2 separate regions of the Homo sapiens genome follow, and region 1 is reported to be linked to region 2. Evidence: microRNA targets listed by miRTarBase, many of them from high-throughput screens and not tested one by one. Region 2 holds a microRNA gene; the other region holds the end of a gene's coding sequence.

Region 1 (4,000 bases), not on the chromosome of region 2:
GTACCCATGCGCACCTGTGCACGCCCATCTCAAAAGCCTGTACCGACACGGATGGCAGCATTGGGTTGGAGGGTGTACCCAGCTCCTGGGAGTGTTCTAGCCATCTCTAATATACATGGCCCCAGATCAACCCTGCCCGGCTCAGAAGTCGGTTGCTCTCAGGCCTAACGGCCTAACACAGTGAAGCCTGTCCATGCCTTCCAGGATGCGCATCTGCCCAAGAAAGAGGTTGAGACCGATGGGCCAGCCGCTCCTGGGGTCCTTTTTTTTTTTTTTGAGATGGACTCTTGCTGTCGCCTAGGCTGGAGTGCAGTGGCACAATCTCAGCTCACTGCGACCTCCACCTCCCAGGTTCAAGCAATTCTCCTGCCTCAGCCTCCCCTAGTAGCTGGGATTACAGGCGTGCACCACCACGCCCAGCTAATTTTTGTAATTTTAGTAGCGACGGGGTTTCACCACGTTGGCCAGGCTGGTCTTGAACTCCTGACCTCAGGTGATCCAGCCTGCCTTGGCCCCCCAAAGTGCTGGGATTACAGGTGTGAGCCACTGCACCCGGCATGGTGTCTTGTTCTGGGCAGAATGGAGAAGGCATTATTAGCAGGACGGGTGCCACAGAGACAGGACAGGGCCGGAAGAACTCAGAGGCTGAGGAAAGGTTAAGGGCTGGAGCGTATGTCCCTTAAGGACCTAGGGTGCCTACCACCCACCACAGCGAGCACAACAGAGGCAGGCCTCTCCCTCAAGCCAGGCTGCTGGGGGAGGAGCGCCTTAAGCTTTAAGGACGTGTCCTAGATGAATAAACAACCTCCAGTGCAAGTTGGTAATGACTGTGGTGGAATTAGCCTGGCGTGGTGGTGGCGGGCGCCTGTAATCCCAGCTACTTGGGAGGCTGAGGCAGGAGAATCGGTTGAACCCAGGAAGTGGAGGCTGCAGTGAGCCGAGATCGCACCATTGCACTCCAGCCTGCGTGACAGAGCGAGATTCTGTCTCAAAAAAAAAAATAGATAAATAAAACCTTAGTAATATTAATAGGTCCTGCTCCCAGGACTTATCTTTATGGCAGCCCCGTCTGCACAGAGTACTAGGTGAGTGGAAGGGCGTGTAAAAACAGACTTCACATCAAGGCCTGGGGATCCCGAGGGAACATAGGTGCTAACTACTGAACATCCGATCCTTTGCTCCCTCAGAGTATAAAAATACATCAACAATCACAAAATGTTTTCCATTTACAGCACTTGCTATATTTTGTGTGGGCTAACACCCCAGGAATAGCTCATCCCAACAACTGGTTTTAAACATGCTCAGGCATACAACTAGGTATGTTAAAAATGTTTTCTATCTACCCAAAAACTCAGCGAAAATAGTAACAATCTTGATAAACCAGATTTTTGCCTCTCCTTTAGTGGAGAAAAACGGCCGAGCTGGGTTTTAGACAAACGCCTTGGAGTCCGAATGTTCAGTCCAACTACCTGCATTCAACTTGAGCATGCACCGTGGAATGGCCATTCATGGCCAGAGGGATGACCTCTTTTGCTCTATAGTTGAAAACTAGCTATCAGAAGGGGGTTAGCAAATTCTAGAGCTTTTTCTATCCAGAGATCACCGCTGACCCTAGGCATTTTGCTCGAGTTTGACTTTATGAAGCTGTGTTGGTTGAAGCTTTTCACCCTCGGAATGTACTGTTTCTGGTCAGGTTCCTTCTATCCGTGTTTGCATTTGGAGCAGTGAACTGACACATTTTGTCTATCTGAAAAGGTATGGACTACCAGTGAACTTCCAGGCAGTGCTCCTGCAGCCGCATAAGAAGTCATCCACCAAGCGTTTAAGAGAGGTTCTAAACTCTGTCTTCCGACATCTGGATGAAGTAGCCGCTACAAGTATACTGGATGTAGGTATCCAGAAACAGCAGTATTTCTACAGTAAGCTCAGCATCTTACTTTCAAAAAACTGGTATCTGCCTGTAATCCCAACACTTTGGGAGGTAGGTGGATCACTTGAGGTCAAGGGTTTGAGACCAGCCTAGCCAACATGGTAAGACCCTGTCTCTACTAAAAAAAAAATTGGGCTGGGCATAGTGGCTCACGCCTGTAATCCCAGCACTTCAGGAGGCCAAGGCGGGTGGATCACGAAGTCAAGAGATGGAGACCAACCTGGCCAACATGGTGAAACCCTGTCTCTACTAAAAATACAAAAATTAGCTGGGTATGGTGGTGTGTGCCTGTAGTCTCAGCTACTTGGGAGGTTGAGGCAGGAGAATCGCTTGAACCTGGGAGGCGGAGGTTGCAGTGAGCTGAGATCACGCCACTACACTCCAGCCTGGCGACAGAACAAGACTCTGTCTCAAAAAAAAAAAAAAAAAAAAAAAAAAAAAAAAAATTTGCCAGGAGTGGTGGTGCATGCCTGTAATCCCAGCTACTTGGGAGTCTGAGGCAGGCAGTGAGCTGAGTCCAGCCTGGGTGACAGAAACTGTCTCAAAAACAAAACAAAGCAAAACTATCTGTCAGCCTGTTATGAAAATCTACATGTCATACACATTAAAGCACAGCAAGGAGAGGGTTGGAGGGGTGGACCACAGCTACGCAGAGCAGAACGTACGCTCAGTGCCTGGCGAGCTTCCTCAAAACTAAAAGGATAAGACAGGAAACTAGTTTATGCACTTAGAGCATTACCATGTCTTCTTTTGTAGGCATCTGTGGAGATCCCGGGACTGCAACTCAATAACCAAGACTATTTTCCTTATGTCTACTTCCATATTGACCTTAGTCTTCTTGACTAGAAAGGCCAGCTGGCACCTCTGTCTCATGTTCGTGCAGATTATTACAGACACCTCTTTCCTTTAGCCAGAGAATGGTTCAAATGTCTTACAGAACTAAGATCTTTTTCAGAGAAATTGCTCACAAAAGTTAGTGACAGTTGTATTTATTTTTTTAAGTTACAATAAAATGCTCTCAAGTCCTTTGAATGTTCCAACAAATTCAAAACTTCATTTTCTGAATGTTTTACATAAATGCGAACTACCTGTTCGCATTGGTAACCTGCTGCTGTATTTCATGTCTTAACGGCTATTTTGAGGTTCATTAACAACATAGAAAGCCTTGAACTGTATAACCAGCTAGATTCCTTAATAATTAGTCACTAGAGACAGCCCAAAGACAAATATTGGGCAGGAAATCAGTTCTCACTGAGCCCGGTTTCCATGTAAAATCTCTGTTGTGGTGGGCATAGGTGGCACCATCTAAAGAAAAGAGGTCTTGTTTTTTGTTTAAAAAAGTTTGTGGGGAGGAAAGACATCTGTGTATCACTTCAAAATATTGATTTACTGCTAAACATCACTCTGAATTTATGATGTGGATACTAACTTCATACATTTATCGGCATTGTCCAAAATATTTTATTCTTTAATGGAAAAAGCCATTAATATTCAAATGAAGGGATCACATTAAAAAAAACCCATACATAAGAAACAGCCTCCAAGAACATTCAAGCAGCAGTCAGAGAGAAAAATGTTTCGACAGCCAAGTTTTCTTCAAAATATTATGTGACAGAATACGACTCAATTCACCGGCTACAACAATTCATAGAATTTTTCAATGTTTTCTTGAGATGCAAAAGTTCACTGTTGCAGTGTTTTCAAATGACCAATCAAGTACTACTTCTTGGTTAAAAGGCCACTGGTAGAGTCATCTGAGTGTAGAGAATGTCCCTTCACTGCTGGAAAAATCCACTGGCTCCCAAGAAAAGAAAATGGTCTGAAGCCTCTGTTGTGGCTCTCACAACTCATCTTTCCCTAAGTCATCAAGCTCCACATCACTGAGGTCAATGTCATCCTCCACGGGAAGCTGGGAGACGACAGAAAGCCACTGTTAGATCTGCAGAAGGGGACACCCTGGAAGGTCAACATCTCATTTTATGGAAGAGCGACTCTCTGGAGCTACTCCTGCTACAATCCAGGTTCTCCTCAGTCTGACTCCTACCCTGACCTTCGTACCTATGATTATAC
Region 2 (4,344 bases):
ACTTTGGGAGGTCAAGGTGGGTAGATCGCTTGAGCTCAGCAGTTCAAGACCAGTCTGGGCAACAGGGTGAAACCCTGTCTCTACGAGAAATACAAGAGTTAGCCAGGCGTGATGGTGGATGCCCGTAGTACCAGCTACTCATGAGGCCGAGGTACAAGGATCGCTCGAGCCCGGGAGGTCAAGCCTTGAGGCCAAGGTGGAAGTTGCAATGAGCTGAGATTGAGCCACTGCACTCCAGCCTGAGTGACAGAGCAAGACCCTATCTCAAAAAAAAAAAAAAAAAAAGGTGGGAAGGAATGAATTCGTAGGCTCCCCTGTGAGAGCCGGCAAGTGGCAGGTGTTGAGCAGATACTCTGTTCTCTCTGCATGGCCTGCCTGGCTACTCTGGCCACACCATCTGGGACCTCCCTTGGGTTGAGGGCTCTGCTGAAGCAATCCCCACAGCCCAGCAGGCACTGCCAGCTCCACTGCCTCTTCGCACATCTTCCCCCGGGCCACTGCCCAGTTCAGCTGACAGGAGGTGAGACCCGCAGAGCTGGTTCCTCTTGATCGCCTCTCCCCATGGCAAGAGTAGTCAGGAATGGTTAGCAGCGTTTACTGAGAGCTCACTGTGCCAGGTGCTGCTGTTCCTCACATTTAAACCTCTCCTTAGCTGGGTGCCATGACTCACATCTTTATGTAGTCCCAGCACTTTGAGAGGCCGAGGCGGGTGGATCACCTGAGGTTAGGAGTTCAAGACCAGCCTGGCCAACGTGGCGAAACCCTGTCTCTACTAAAAATAAAAAATTAGCTGGGTGTGGTGGCAGACACCCGTAATCTCAGCTACTCGGGAGGCTGAGGCAGGAGAATCACTTGAACCTGGGAGGTGGAGGTTGCAGTAAGCTCAGATTGCGCCACTGCCCTCCAACCTGGGCAACAAGAGCGAGACTCCATCTCAAATAAATAAATAAACCTCTCCTTAACTGCGTGTGGGAGGCTGATAGGTGAGGAAACAGAAGTAGGCCAGAGTGAGGTGTTCGTCATGGCAAAGCCATCTTCCATCCTTTTACCACCTCTTGGTCCCACTTTATGCATAAGGAAAAACAGCCATCAAAAGAGATAGCCTGTGGCATGACTGTATCAACATCAGTATCCTTATATTTGGTTGCAAAATTATAGTTTTGTAAGGGGTTAACCTTTTGGGGGAGCTGGGTAAAAGGCACATGGGATCTCCCTCTGTGCTATTTCTTTTAACTGCGAGTGAATCTACAACTGTCTCAAAATAAAAGTTTAAAATTTAAAGGGGGAGAGAAGATAGTGTCAGGCTTAGATTGGGATCTCACTCTGCTCCCTGCCCTAGCCTCACCTTCCTCGGAGGCCTCTCCTGGTCCTGCAATGACGGGGCCCCAGGTTGATCACCTCATGCTGGTGAGGGATGGGGGCTCGGTGTGGTGGGCAGGCTGGGTGAGTCAGGAGGGCCGGTGTTGCCCCCAGGGCTCCAGCACCACCAGGACCTGAGCACCCCAGTCCTGCGGTCCGATGTAGATGCCCTGCAGCAGGTGGTGGAGGAAGCTGTGGGGCAGGCCCTGCCTGGGGCCACCGTCACGCTGACCGGCGGCTTCCGCAGGTAAGAAGGCCCGACGTGCCCCTCTGGCTTGGCTTCAGACCCCTCCCCAGTGAAGGGACCTGAGTCGGGGACCCTGAAGCGGGCCCACTCGTTGGAAGGGATGTGGCCTGGGGCTGGAGTGAGCAGGCCGTGTCCCTGAGTCAGAGTCAGACTGACGCCCTCAGGGGGAAGTTGCAGGGCCATGACGTGGACTTCCTCATCACCCACCCCAAGGAGGGTCAGGAGGCGGGGCTGCTGCCTAGAGTGATGTGCCGCCTGCAGGACCAGGTGAGGGCCTCCCTGCTCCCCAAGAGCCACCGCTGGCCAATGCCACTGCCTCCTGCTCTCTCCACACCACCGGATGGTCTCAGCCACGCCCGCCTCTCCCCACAGGGCCTCATCCTGTACCACCAGCACCAGCACAGCTGCTGTGAGTCCCCTACCCGCCTGGCCCAACAGAGCCACATGGACGCTTTTGAGAGAAGTTTCTGCATTTTCCGCCTACCACAACCTCCAGGGGCTGCTGTGGGGGGATCCACGAGGCCCTGCCCATCCTGGAAGGCCGTGAGAGTGGACTTGGTAGTTGCACCCGTCAGCCAGTTCCCTTTCGCCCTGCTCGGTTGGACTGGCTCCAAGGTAGGCAGTGTGCCGCTGGGCCGCCTGGGGGTGGGGCTGGGCCAGCCCTGCTGAGGACAATCCCTTCCCTACAGCTTTTCCAGCGGGAGCTGCGCCGCTTCAGCCGGAAGGAGAAGGGCCTGTGGCTGAACAGCCATGGGCTGTTTGACCCGGAGCAGGTACATTGTTGGGGACTGGGGACAGCAAACAGCACCCATAGTCCGCTCCCTGACCCACAATCTGAAATGGCCCCAGACCCCTCCAGCCTGAAACCCATAGGACCCGAATCTGGGTCTCCACACACAGTTCCTGGCCCTCAAGAGCACACCCCACCTCGGCGCTGGGCTCTTCCCCACCCTCAGTCTTCCTGCAGGGAAGCAGCAGTGGCAAGACTCCTAGGTCACGGAAGTCCTGCTTCTGTTGCAGAAGACATTTTTCCAAGCGGCTTCAGAGGAAGACATCTTCAGACACCTGGGCCTTGAGTACCTTCCTCCAGAGCAGAGAAACGCCTGAGCCTGCCTGTGTCCCCCACTTCCACTCAGGAAATTGGGCTGCCCCCAACCTGGCCACTGAATGTCTCCAGGCAGATATGCTGCCCCCTGACCCCCACCTTCACCCCTCCCCGCCAAGGCCTGGCTCTTCCGGAGGTCAATTGTGCCTGCAGGATCAGTTGAGCCCCTGCTGGTGTGCTGCAGGGTGTGATGAGGTGGGAGCCCTCAGTGCCAGCCTCATCACTGTGTGACCCTGGGTCTGCTCTTAGCCTCCCCATGGCTCACGTTCCTGCCCTGGATGGGATGTGAGTGGGGCCCACATCGTGGAGCTGTGGTGGGGCCTGCAGTCATGAATGGCAAGTGGTCCCTGATGTGCAGTGTCTCATTAGTTGCACTGCAGTTAACTGTGGCTCCTGCAGGGCACCCTGCCCAGAATGCCCAGAAGAGAACCATGCATACCTGCACTGCATTTGAGAGCCATGAGCTGGAGGCTGTGGTTCGTGCCAGCAAGGAGCCTACTGTCTGGTGTGCTGTAGGCATCTGGAGAGGGAGAGGGCCTGGGTAGGAGCTGGGAGGAAGATAATTTTCAACTATGGGGCTTCAGTACTGCAGCGCCCCGAGCCAGGCTCTGTGCTTCTGCCTTTAAGGCCTGTTCTCAGCACAATGTCTCAAAAATAGGTCATATCCTGCCACTCCCGTCGCAGAGCCCTTTAATGGTTCCAAACCCTAAGTCCACACATAGCCCCTGGCTCTGGCATCTCTCCAGCCCCACTGGCCCCGAGCTGCTTGACTCACCGGCTTCCTATTTGATGCACCCAGGCCCCCTTGTGGCCAACTCCCTCCCCTTCTCACTGAGGCAGAAGCACTGAGGTGGGCTGGACATGGGTGCCCTCCACGTCCCTCATATCCCCAGGCACACTCTGGCCTCAGGTTTTGCCCTGGCCATGTCATCTACCTGGAGTGGGCCCTCCCCTTCTTCAGGCCTTGAATCAAAAGCCACTTTGTTAGGCGAGGATTTCCCAGACCACTCATCACATTAAAAAATATTTTGAAAACATGCAGTAAAGTTGACTCTTGGGGTGCAGTTTTTGCACACGTAGGGCACACCAGGTCCATCCCCAGAACACTTCCCATGCTGTCCTATTGTGGTCATGTGCTTCTCCACCCCCACCCACTTAGCGGTGCTACATCCCTATAGTTTTGCTTTCTCTAGAATGTCATGTAAATAGAACCAAACTATATTTAACCTTTGGACTGGCCTCTCCCCACAGCCTAATGCCTTTGACGTTCCTGCAGGTTGCTGGGTATGTTGAGTTTGTAATTTGTTCCATGCCATGGGTGTTCTACAGTTTATCCATTCAGGTGTTGAATGTCTGGGTTGTGGCCGGATGCCGTGGCTCATGCCTGTAATCCTAGCACTTTGGGAGGCTGAGACGGGTGGATCACTTGAGGCCAGGAGTTTGAGACCAGCCTGGCCACCATGGCGAAACCCCATCTCTACAAAAAATACAAAAATTTGCTGGGCATGTTGGCTCATACCTGTATTCCCAGCTACACGGGAGGCTGAGGCATAAGAATTGCTTGAACCTGGGATGCCAAGGTTGCAGTGAGCTGAGATTGTGCCACTGCACTCCAGCCTGGGCGACAGAGCAA

The links. The annotated mature microRNA hsa-miR-6838-5p reads AAGCAGCAGUGGCAAGACUCCU and lies in region 2 at 2,576-2,597, shown strand. An mRNA with a match to its seed (bases 2 to 7 or 8) in the 3' UTR can be bound and repressed. Matches are read on the target gene's strand: a 7mer-m8 pairs with bases 2 to 8, a 7mer-A1 pairs with bases 2 to 7 and ends in A, and an 8mer does both.
Region 1: miRTarBase lists PDIA6 as a target of hsa-miR-6838-5p. Seed matches in the 3' UTR shown: 7mer-m8 at 3,484-3,490.

What each region holds. Positions count from the first base shown.
Region 1 is chr2:10,780,488-10,784,487 of GRCh38, forward strand. PDIA6 (protein disulfide isomerase family A member 6) reads right to left here. Exons shown (of 13, transcript NM_005742.4): 13 at 2,904-3,839. The coding sequence ends at 3,771. It overlaps ATP6V1C2 (ATPase H+ transporting V1 subunit C2), which reads left to right. Exons shown (of 14, transcript NM_001039362.2): 13 at 1,756-1,888; 14 at 2,687-4,000. The coding sequence ends at 2,776. Among named protein-coding and RNA genes, the nearest start is that of PDIA6, 30 kb to the right of the region's middle.
Region 2 is chr7:44,071,660-44,076,003 of GRCh38, reverse strand. MIR6838 (microRNA 6838) reads left to right here and starts at 2,571; the gene lies at 2,571-2,626. It overlaps POLM (DNA polymerase mu), which reads left to right. Exons shown (of 11, transcript NM_013284.4): 7 at 1,474-1,606; 8 at 1,771-1,873; 9 at 1,979-2,221; 10 at 2,296-2,379; 11 at 2,627-3,942. The coding sequence ends at 2,713. RefSeq lists enhancers at 1,566-1,635, 1,706-1,905.